Homo sapiens: one gene and its partners. The main gene of each other region encodes a partner of the protein of the gene in region 2 in a complex. Each region holds a gene or a part of one and is shown on either strand. Other genes may lie near its edges. A codon is read from its position in the direction of its gene.

What was found.
Region 1: the proteins of MFAP1 (region 2) and PRPF38A are in contact, whole or in part, in a crystal structure (PDB 5F5S), measured with the Homo sapiens proteins. Residues at the interface, in NP_005917.2 of Homo sapiens: Glu275 (codon at 1,682), Tyr276 (codon at 1,685), Trp279 (codon at 1,694), Arg282 (codon at 1,703), Glu283 (codon at 1,706), Arg286 (codon at 1,715), Arg289 (codon at 1,724), Asp290 (codon at 1,727), Arg294 (codon at 1,739), Leu297, Glu298, Lys301; in NP_116253.2 of Homo sapiens: Tyr124, Asn125, Tyr127, Lys129, His143, Asp145, Glu146, Asp149, His153, Tyr169, Val170, Glu172.
Region 3: MFAP1 (region 2) and SF3B3 share a complex: the UniProt entries of both Homo sapiens proteins name them as parts of the spliceosome B complex.

Annotation. Positions count from the first base shown.
Region 1 is NC_000001.11:52,402,980-52,406,727, reverse strand, and holds the start of PRPF38A (pre-mRNA-splicing factor 38A), read right to left. Parts: upstream 2,127-3,748; 5' UTR 1,979-2,126; coding exon 1,849-1,978; intron 1,049-1,848; coding exon 889-1,048; intron 1-888. UniProt on the Homo sapiens protein: Involved in pre-mRNA splicing as a component of the spliceosome.
Region 2 is NC_000015.10:43,810,985-43,814,732, reverse strand, and holds part of MFAP1 (microfibrillar-associated protein 1), read left to right. Parts: intron 1-44; coding exon 45-232; intron 233-1,375; coding exon 1,376-1,484; intron 1,485-1,585; coding exon 1,586-1,746; intron 1,747-3,748. UniProt on the Homo sapiens protein: Involved in pre-mRNA splicing as a component of the spliceosome.
Region 3 is NC_000016.10:70,522,040-70,525,787, forward strand, and holds the start of SF3B3 (splicing factor 3B subunit 3), read left to right. Parts: upstream 1-1,776; 5' UTR 1,777-1,889; intron 1,890-3,748. Other genes in the region: COG4 (conserved oligomeric Golgi complex subunit 4), read right to left, coding at 1,334-1,504. UniProt on the Homo sapiens protein: Component of the 17S U2 SnRNP complex of the spliceosome, a large ribonucleoprotein complex that removes introns from transcribed pre-mRNAs.

The DNA of each region.
Region 1 (3,748 bases), on a different chromosome or scaffold from region 2:
ATTATGTCTGTCTCCTATACTTGTTTGTGATTTCCTCGAGAATCGGTAATACGGTAATAAGCTGACATTTTCTAGGTGTTTACCATGCAGCAAGTGCTGTGTTCAGAGATCTGCATGCATTACGTTCTTTCACTCTTATATTATAGTCACCATTTTACAGATAAGCAAAGTTTAGAAAATTAAGTAACCTCTCCAATGTCATAGTTAATGGGCAACAGAATCTGGATGTGAACCCAGATCTTACACCTCTTAACCACCACCTTTTGTTGTTTGATTTTCACCCCTGAGCGTCCAGTGCCTACCAACATATCAGGCACTCACTTTTGCTTAATATGTATTTAGTGAATCTGTGAAATCCTTTTTCAGGGAAAAATTACCAAAACTGAGAAAGTAAAGTAGAAGATTAATACAATCAGAACAGATAAAATACAAACTTGGCAGGGTGTGGTGGCTCATGCCTGTAATCCCAGCACTCTGGGAGGCCCGGGGGGGGAGGGGATTACCTGAAGTCTGGAGTTCGAGACCAGCCTGGCCAACATGGTGAAACCCCATCTCTACTAAAAATACAAAAATTAGCCAGGCGTGATGGCACATGCCTGTAATCCCAGCTACTCGGGAGGCTGAGACAGGAGAATCACTTGAACCCAGGAAATGGGGGTTGCAGTGGGCCGAGATCGCACCACTGCACTCCAGCCTGGGCAACACAGAGAGACTCTGTTTCCAAAACAAAAAACAAACAAAAAATACAAACTCAAGGGCTCAAAAGCAAAAATCTGGAGTGGAACTCTCTAGAAATGAGATACATTGTGTACACCCCTCTTAACCAAAGCCCAATTCTAAACCGCCAAAATTAAACCTCTTATATTAGCTAGTGAACATTGCACTCACTTGAAATCTTCATTTTTGATAAACTCTACAATGATATCCTTCTCGGGTTGAATTTGAAGCATCTTCAAGGTTAAACACAGAAAGGGTGTTGGTTTTATGTTGCCACCATAGACGCCACCCACAAACCTTAACTCCATGGCTTTATCGACTACAAGTTCAGCTAAAAAACAAAAACAATACAGTAACATATTAGGGCTAAGCTCTTCCTAGTTGGAGTGGAGTTAGTTCAAGCTTTGGTTCTCCTAAATATACATCAACAGTGTAATATTAGGAGAACGAATGTGTATTAATAACAGTAACGACAACAGCTAATATACATTGAGAATGGATAATAAAATAGGTACCCTGCTAAGCTTTTCATATTATCTCACTTAACCTTTTTTAACAAGTCATGAAGAAAGTTCTAGCAATGTTCTTATTTCCAGGTAAGGAAAATGAGGGCTAAGAAAGGTAAAGTGACTTGCTCAAGGTCCACAGATTGTCACAGGACATGGATTTAAAGCCACAATTCAAATCGGAAGATTACCTGGAAGACTTCTCTGAAGCACTGATATTTATAAATACTGGAACCGGCCCAGATCTAAGAATAGTAAGATCATGAATTTGGTTTCAGGCATATTAACGTTAGGTCCTTAAAGACCTTCAACAGATTGTGTCAAAGTGTTATATCCGGATCCCTGAGCTTAACACTGTTGCAACCCAGCCTGCTATCATTAAATACGGAATAACTCACAACACCCAACTGAGACAGCCTTCAGAATATGACCTTACCAGATTCATCTGTGCCTCTAATACTCAACACAAGACGAGGCACTTAGCAGGCACTCAAAATTTTTCTGAATGATCGACATACTCCGTTCCAGTACCACCCCCAGAGGCCAGTCGCTAGTCCTACCCGCGCTCGGTCAGGAGAAATGGGCCACAAGGGGGCTGAGAGGCGCTCCGCGCGCTTCCACTTACCTGTAAGTCCAAAGCACTCCTCTTTCCAGTACTTGGACTCATAGATTCGCGTTCGAATGATCTTCTCCACCAGATATTGAGGGTTGGTGCCATGGATGCTGTGCGCATCCTTCACTGTACGGTTAGCCATTTTAGAATGCCTTCAATTCTATTTCCGTCGGATCCTTTAATGCCTCACATCCAGGTTCAGAAAAAGCACCTAGAGGAATGGAGAAAGGTGGAAGAAGTTTCACTAAACAGCTTAGGCGACCATCTTGAAGCCGGAAACACCGTAGTGTAAAGGGCTTCCGCTCCCCGCGTCGCCTATCGAATCAATGATGGCGGCTGCATGTTAGCGGATGTACGTCATGCGCCCCTCTTAGGTGTACGGAGTGGGCGGGGCGAGCTAGTTGGTGTCGCAACGAAGGGACGGTCTGGGGGCGGGGCCACGCCGATTGGCGCGAAGTTTTCTTTTCTCCTTCCACCTTCTTTTCATTTCTAGTGAGACACACGCTTTGGTCCTGGCTTTCGGCCCGTAGTTGTAGAAGGAGCCCTGCTGGTGCAGGTTAGAGGTGCCGCATCCCCCGGAGCTCTCGAAGTGGAGGCGGTAGGAAACGGAGGGCTTGCGGCTAGCCGGAGGAAGCTTTGGAGCCGGGTGAGTGTGGCGTCCAGCGGGCTGCGAGGGACTCGGGGGAGGGCGCATCGGAACCTCTGAAACTGAGGACGTTCTCTGTAGACTCAGTCATTGATTCTTTTAGCTGACATGTACCAAGCGCCTGTTCAGTGCCAGGCACTGTTCTGAACTGTTAAGAGCGTTCCTCTGTTCCACACTCCGATTCCTAAAAGGCTTCCCGCGCTGCAGGGAACTGAGTTTGCAGGGGGGAAGGCGGAAGCCAACAGCCTAGAAGCAGGAGCATTCCTGCCCTCCGCACCCTGATGCTCAGTGATGACTTTCCCTCCATCTGCATTTGTAAAGCACTCTACTTGTTTCGTTCTTTGAGCTATAGTGTAGGAACCACTACAGGGAAGGCGGAGCAGAGGTTATTACCCCATTTTACGGACGTAAATTGCGCCCAGGGAGGGACGTGTCTTAGGTCGCTTTTCGTGACTAAGCAGTCTGGGCTCCTACCCAGATCTTTTTTTCAGATGAGCTCCTAACTGCTGGGCTGTCTGTCATTCACCTTCTTTTCAGAAGAGAAGTCTGGTGGCCCCCTTCCTACTTCTCTTTTCTAACCCCGGAATTGAAGAGTCTTCTGCTGTGACAGTTGGAAAAGGCATTCTTATCCTGATCTATTTGTGAAACTGCAATGATTATATACGATTCTAGTTGTCTGTAACACATGAATAATAGTACCCTCGTCTCTGCTGTGTTAGGTGGGCTGGAAATGCCAAAGGAGTTTCCAATATGACAGAATGGTTTAAGTCCCTTTGCAACAGTTTTTAACTTTAATGGAGGGCAATATGTGGACTTTAGGAGGTTTGTGAATCTGCCGAAATTGAATGCAAAATTTTGCTTGAATTATGTTAGTTCCATAGTATTCATCAAATGATACTTAATAAATAAAACCACTGTACCTTACAAATAAATGCAAGGGATTAAGGTAGTGGGAAAGTGGATTTACCATTTTGCATTTTTTCACTTAATCTTCCATTATCCTAAAATAGTGCCTGGCACACGATGGGTACTTAATAAATATTGGTTGAATAAACGGAAGATTCTATTTTCTCCATTTTGTGGGTAAGCAAATTGAGGCCCAATCCACAATGTTCAGTCAGTGGCTGGGAAGCCTGATTTATTGTAATAAGTACACCAAAAGCAAGCTCTCAGTTACATATTAACATTATCCAGTTTCACACAGTGTGTTGTAAGGTGAAGTAGTTAAGAGCACAGTAATTGCAGTCTGGCTTTTCCGGGTTTGAG
Region 2 (3,748 bases):
CCATAGGCCATTTGACTGACTGGCTTATATATATGACTTGATAGGAAATAGAGCGGCGGCGTGGCATGATGCGTCAGCGAGCACAGGAGAGAAAAAATGAAGAGATGGAAGTCATGGAAGTGGAAGATGAGGGTCGTTCTGGAGAGGAGTCAGAATCAGAGTCTGAGTATGAAGAGTACACAGACAGTGAAGATGAGATGGAGCCTCGCCTTAAGCCAGTCTTCATTCGAAAGTAAGTATCTCACAAGCCAGATCTGAATCCACTTAATTACCACTTTCCAGGCCTGGAGACAAAAGTCTGTTTTCTGTCTTGCTATTCTGAAATCTAAACGCTGAGTGAAAGTGCTTTTGCTAGTGCTCTACCCTTGGCAGACTAGCTGCTGAGGAATATCTTGGCGTTAGCAGAGAACCTGAGTTTGTTTTCACATCTCTTTTTTCAGTAATAGAGCATATATCTGTCCAAGGCCTTTTTTTGTTTGTTTGAGACAGAGTTTCGCTCTTGTTGCCCAGGCTGGAGTGCAATGGCATGATCTCGGCTCACCACAACCTCCACCTCCTGGTTTCAAGCAGTTCTGCCTCTGTCTCCCGAGTAGCTGGGATTACAGGCATGCGCCACCACGCCTGGCTAATTTTGTATTTTTAGTAGAGAGGGGGTTTTTCCATGTTGGTCAGGCTGGTCTCGAACTCCCAACCTCAGGTGATCCGTCCTCCTCAGCCTCCCAAAGTGCTAGGATTACAGGCATGAGCCACGGCACCAAGCCAAGGCCATATATTTTTAAGCACAAAATTAAACTCAACGAGCAAATTCCTATTCCTTTCCTGATGGCTAGAAATCCTACTGCTTAGAGGCCAGCAGGTTCTTTGCTGTCTAGGCAGTTCTCAAAGATGAACATGATTTTAGTCCTCTAAAGACCTGGGATGATGGCTGGGCACGGTGGCTCACGACTGTAATCCCAGCACTTTGGGAGGCTGAGGTAGGTGGATCAGGAGGTCAGGAGTTCAAGACCAGCCTAGCCAAGATGGTGAAACCCCATCTCTACTAAAAATACAAAGAAATTAATCAGGTGTGGTGGCAGACTCTTGTAATCCCAGCTACTCAGGAGGCTGAGGCAGAGAATTGCTTGAACCCAGGAGGCGGAGGTTGCAGTGAGCCAAGATCACACCACTGCACTGCAGCCTAGGCGACAAGTGAGACTCCGTCTCAAAAAAAAAAAAAAAAAAAAAGACCTGGGATGACTCAGCGTTTTTTGCTCTTTGAAAATAATAGAGCCAAAGATTGTTTGGTTTTTGTCTGATTTGGATGGGACTAGGTCTAGGGGAACAAAGCACTCCACTCTAAGGACTTTGGGCAATTAACAGGATCTCTGTGATGCAGGAAGGACCGAGTGACAGTTCAAGAACGTGAAGCCGAAGCATTGAAACAGAAGGAGCTGGAGCAGGAAGCAAAACGCATGGCTGAGGAAAGGCGCAAGTACACACTCAAGGTACTGGGGAGTGGTTGCAAGGAATGAGTACAAGAAATAGTGTAATCAGGTTTGTCTGAGGAGAGTAAGGAAGTCCAAGCTGAATTGTTCTCCCTATCCAGATTGTCGAAGAGGAAACCAAAAAAGAGCTGGAAGAGAACAAGCGATCCCTGGCTGCATTGGATGCACTCAATACTGATGATGAAAATGATGAGGAGGAATATGAGGCATGGAAAGTTCGAGAGCTAAAAAGAATCAAGAGGGACAGAGAAGATCGAGAAGCGTGAGTAAAAAGATGAGCCTAGAGTTAATGCTGCTAATGGAACAGGTTTCTAGCAGGATAGCTCTGAGACTCATTACCTACTGTGAGTTCCATTCTAGCCACCTTCAGAGTTCTTGTTGCTTTGTGAGTTTCCTATAATTGGAATATGAGTTTCACTTGCTACAGTGAAATCAGGGAAGAGAAAAACACTTTGTCGATGTGTGTCCATAATAGAGTGCCAGCCAGTGCTCCCTTTAGTTTCCTAGTAGACACAAAAATTAGTAACTGTTAGTAGTTATCTCTTCTTGTGTACAACCCAACCCACAATTGAGTGACTTGAAACTATAATTTATTACTTTTCACAACTTTGGAGGTTGGCTGAACAGTTCCTCTACTGATTTCACCTGGGCTTACTTATGTAGTTGCATCCAGCTGGAAGGTTGACTGGGCTGGAAACTTAAAAGGGCTTCACTCACATGTTAGTAGTAGGTGGTGGCTATCAGTTAGGATACCTCACTTATCCTTCACTGGATTAGACTGGCTTCCTTACATAGCAGTCTCAGGGCACCATTCTAAGAGGGCAAGGTCTTCTGACATGTCGGTTCCAGAACTCATACATCGATCTTGCCACATACTGGTCAAAGCAAGTCACAAGGCCAACCTAGCTTTAAGCAGGTGGAGAAACAGACTCCACCTCTGCAGAGGAGGAGCAGCAAAGTCATACTTTTTGAAAAGGGGCATACATACTGTGAGGGGAAGAATTTGTGGCACTTAAATAATCTACACTGTGTTAGAGCAGAATCTTTTTTTTTTTTTTTTGACATGAAGTTTCACTTTTCACCCAGGCTGCAGTGAAGTGTCACAATCTCAGCTCACTGCAGCCTCCGCCTGCCAGGTTCAAGTGATTTTCCTGCCTCAGCCTCCCAAGTAGCTGGGATTACAGGCATGCGCCACCATGCCTGGCTAATTTTCGTATTTTTAGTACAGACAGGGTTTCACCATGTTGGTCAGGCTGGTCTCGAACTCATGATCTCAGGTTGTCCACCCAACTCGGCCTCCCAAAGTGCTGGGATTATGGCATGAGCCATCATGCCCGGCCCCAGCAGAATCATTTCTGAGCTGCATCACTCATTCCTGTAAATTACTAGGTATGAGAGGGTAATCCCAGATTACAAAGGAAACCATCAATAGATAACTCTAGGCTGGGCGTGATGGCTCACACCCATAATCCCAGCACTTTGGGTGGCTGAGGCAGGCGAATCACTTCAGGCTGAGAGTTCAAGACCAGCTTGGCCAACATGGTGAAAACCTATCTCTACTAAAATACAAAAATTAGCTGGGTGTGGTGGTGTGTGCCTGTTATTCCCAGCTACTCGGGAGGCGGAGGCAAGAGAATCGCTTGAACCCGGCAGGCAGAGGTTGCGGTGAGCTGAGATCGTGCCACTGCACTCCAGCCTAGGTGACAGAGTGAGACTCTATCTGGAAAAAAAAAAAAAAGAAAAAAAGAAAACTTGCCTGAGTATGAGCTACACACAGTAGATAACTCCATACTCAGCCTGTAATTTTTTGTTTTTGGTTTTTTTTTTTTTTTTGAGACACAGTCTCACTCTGTCGCCCAGGCTGGAGTGCAGTGGCGCAATCTTGGCTCACTACAACCTCCACCCCCTGGGAGTCAAGCGGTTCTCCTGCCTCAGCCTCCTGCGTAGCTGGGACTACAGGTATATGCCACCACGCCCAGCTAATTTTTGTATTTTTAGTAGAGGTGGGTTTTCACCATGTCGGCCAGGCTGGCCTTGAACTCCTGACTTCAGGTGATCCACCCACCTCGGCCTCCCAAAGTGCTGGGATTACAGGCATGAGCCACCACGCCTGGCCCTCAGCCTGTAGTTTCTAAGATTTTTATCCTGGACCTGTAGGAGTAGGAGTCTAAGTGCCCTTTAAAATTGTACACAAGGCCGGGCGTGGTGGCTCACGCCTGTAATCCCAACAATTTGGGAGGCCGAGGTGGGCGGCTCACAAGGTC
Region 3 (3,748 bases), on a different chromosome or scaffold from region 2:
CAGGCTAGAGTGTAATGGCGCTATCTTGGTTCACTGCAACCTCCGCCTCCCAGGTTCAAGCAATTCTCCTGCCTCAGCCTCCCGAGTAGCTGGGATTACAGGCATGCGTCACCACACCCGGCTAGTTTTGTATTTTTAGTAGTGATGGTTTTCACCATTTTGGTCATGCTGGTCTCGAACTCCTGACTCAGGTGATCCTCCCGTCTTGGCCTCCCAAAGTGCTGGGATGGCAGGCGTGAGCCACCGCGCCCCGCAAGATACTAAATTTTAAAACACATCTTGCTGAGGCCAGACAAAAAAAGCCCCACACACTAAACTAGCCAGGCACGGTGGTGTGCGCCTCTGGTTTCATCCATTCTGATTGCAGCACAACAGCACTCCAGCCTGCGCAACAGAGAGCGGCCCTGTTTCTAAAAATAACAAAACAAAACAAAAAACACCACACACATCTTGCTGAAAAACGTATCAGAAACTGCTAGAGTTAGTGCAAGTTTATACTTGAAAATACTCAAAGATATCAACGATCACCTCTCCCTCAGGCTGAAACTGCCTTTTGTGCTCAACTTTGCTAGAAGTTTGGTCTGGGAAACAGCTGACAAGCTTAGAGCTTAGATCTCTTTTGACTAGCAAGGAACCCAACTGACATTCGAAAGTGAATTGACAGCATCGAGTTGCCACTGAAAATTAAAGGAGGCAGGAAATAGAACGTTATGAACTGAAAGGAATTGGAGAATAGTCCACACCCCTCATTTGATAAAATATCAAGGGTACCAGAGATGAAGTGACTTGTCCAAGATTAGAGAATTGTGTCTGAGTCTTAAAAGCTAAACCTCTACAAAGATGTGCATTTGACCAAAACGCTAAAATCACACCCCCAAATCACTCCCCACAAGAGGAAGTCTTAAAACGCTTCAAGAAGTTAATCTGCAAAGGCTTCCCTCTTAAATAACAGGATGAGAGCGTTTCATAATTTGTAAATTAAGCCAATGCAAAAGGGCGCTTATTATTTTGAGAACCAAGCAATTTGGCAAATACTCTCAGACTAACTTTACTCCCGTGGAGAAACTGGTGATCATGGATCAGGGAAATCAACGGGGGTCTAGGGAGGAGAGGCTGCAGATCGCCCAGGTATCAGGGAAGACAAGCTCGGCGCGTCCGACAGCGTGAAAAGAGTTGACAGGACTACTCATATACCCGACTAGCTTCCGCTTCTTTGTTTTCCCGCTTTTTTGTATCCCCCAGCAAGGAGAGTTTCCCACAGCCCGGATTTCCCGACTGAAGGCTCCCACTCTCCCTAGATCCTCCATGAAAAAGAAGAGGCTCGACCCCGCACCTCCTCGCCGCAGAGCCGTTCGTATACAGCCTCCAGCTCCTGCAGCTCTGTCAGGGAGCGAATGAGCTCAGCGGAGATTTCGGAGCAGCGGCCACCTCCCACCCCCTCAGACGGCTGCTGCACCCCTGACAGCTTCGGAGGCGAATCAAGGTCCGCCATCTTGGTCCCCATTCGGCACTTCCGGTCCCGCGAGGCCCCCTCTTCGTTGGCGCCTATTTGGGGCTGCCCACAGAAGTGCCCAATGAACTCTAATGGTTTTTTTTTTTTAAAGTCTACTTCTAAAAACGTATTAATTTTCTATTCTCCTGGAAAAAGCAAAGCAATAAAGCATGTTTAAATAATTTGTAATGCCGTGTGGAAGCAAGACGGAAGCATTTTTTAAAAATTATATATATTCTTCAGGCGCGGATTGGGTGCCTTTTTCCGCCGCGCGCCACCAGAATGTCCCTGTCTTGAGGTCTAATGGCGGACGCCAGTATGTTGGAGTTGGTGGTGGCTTAAGTTTTGAAGGGAGGTAGCATCCGTTGGATATCCACACCATCCTTCTCGCTGCAGGGTAAAAAAACAGCCTGGAGACTTCCCCGGGCCCGGGGAGGCGGAGACCGGCCATATGGAAGGGGGACCCGAGACTTTGGCGGGGGTCACGGGCAGTCTAGGCCCGAGAGGCTGGGGACCAGGAGGAGGTACCGAGGGATGGTTGAGGCGCCAAAACGGCTTCCTGCAGTTATCTCTCGCTTCCATCCACAGTGTGGGAACATATTCTATCTCAAAATAGGGCTCGTGGAGATTGCTTTTAACTTCTGGGGACTCTGAGACGGGGGAGGTGTGACAAGCAGCGGGAGGCATGGATGTCTCCCTCTGGGTAGAGTAAATGGTACACCGAGGGGAAGATAGAAAGATGGAGCGTGTTAAAAGCGTAAATAACGGAAACAGTCTTTAGAGCCAAGACTCCGGTTTGAATTTGTATTTTGGTAGTTGGGCAACTTGTCTCCTCCTCTGAACCTCTATTTTCTCGTTTGCGTAATGGAGGACAGAGTTTAAATGCGATGATGTTTCCTTGGAGGATGGAGAAGATGCAGTGAGCAATCATACAAGCTTTTTGTAATAATGGTAAACAGACGTGGGGGAAGTTTTTTTTGTTTTGTTTTGTTTTGTTTTTGTGACGGAGTCACAGTCTGTCGCCCAGACTGGAGAGCAGTGGCGCGATCTCGGCTCACTGCCATCTCTGCCTCCCGGGTTCCAGCGATTCTCTTACCTCAGCCTCCCGAGTAGACTAGCTGGGATTACGGGCGCGTGCCACCACGCCCGGCTAATTTTTCTTTTTTTGAGACGGTGTCTCGCTTTGTCGCCCAGGCTGGAGTGCAGTGGCGCGATCTCTGCTCACTGCAAGCTCCGCTTTCCGGGTTCACGCCATTCTCCTGCCTCAGCCTCACGAGTAGCTGGAACTACAGGCGCCCGCCACCGCGCCCAGCTAATTTTTTGTATTTTTAGTAGAGACGGGGTTTCACTGTGTTAGCCAGGATGGTCTCGATCTCCTGACCTTGATCCACCCGCCTTGGCCTCCCAAAGTGTTGGGATTACAGGTGTGAGACACCGCGCCCGGCCCAGACGTGGGGGAAGTTTTAAAGCTTACCAAATTTATCTGGTATGTATTTTTTGTTTGTTTGTTTTGTTTTTGAGACGAAGTCTCGCTGTCGCCCAGGCTGGAGCGCAGCGGCTTGATCTCGGCTTACTGCAGCCTCCTCCTCCTTGGTTCTAGCTATTCTCACGCCTCAGCTTCCCGAGTAGCTGAGATTAAAGGCGTGTGCCACCGCGCCCGGCTAGTTTTTGCATTTTTAGTAGAGGGGTTTTCACTGTGTTGGCCAGGCTGGTCTCAATTCCTGACCTCAAGTGACCCATTTGCCTCGGCCTCCCAAAGTGCTGGGATTACAGGCGTGAGCCACCACTGCGCCTGGCCTCGTATATAGTTTTTCTAGTACTGGACTGATCCTCCGAAATGCACCTTCCTCCACGATCCAAAGTTAAGGTGTCGCTGGAGAACCTGAATCCAACTAGATTTGGGAAAAAATGAATTCCAAAGGTTTGTAATGGATTGTATCAGTTATAAGGAAAGGGGAAAGTAGACTGTTTTGATCAGCTACAAAATATGAAAAGTAACTTGCGGGGAGCTGTTCAGGGATTCAGAAGCAGCTCCTAGCTTCCTCTCTTTTGCTTTTTTTGTTGTTTCTCCACTCCCTGGTCTTTCAACATCGGTCCTTTTCGTTCATGTTTTACTGTGGTCCTAGAACGTTAAACATATACCTTAGTCTATGGGCTGGGCGCGGTGGCTCAACGCCTGTAATCCTAGCACTTTGGGAGGCGGAGGCGGGCGGATCACGAAGTCAGGAGATCGAGACCATCCTGGCTAACATGGTG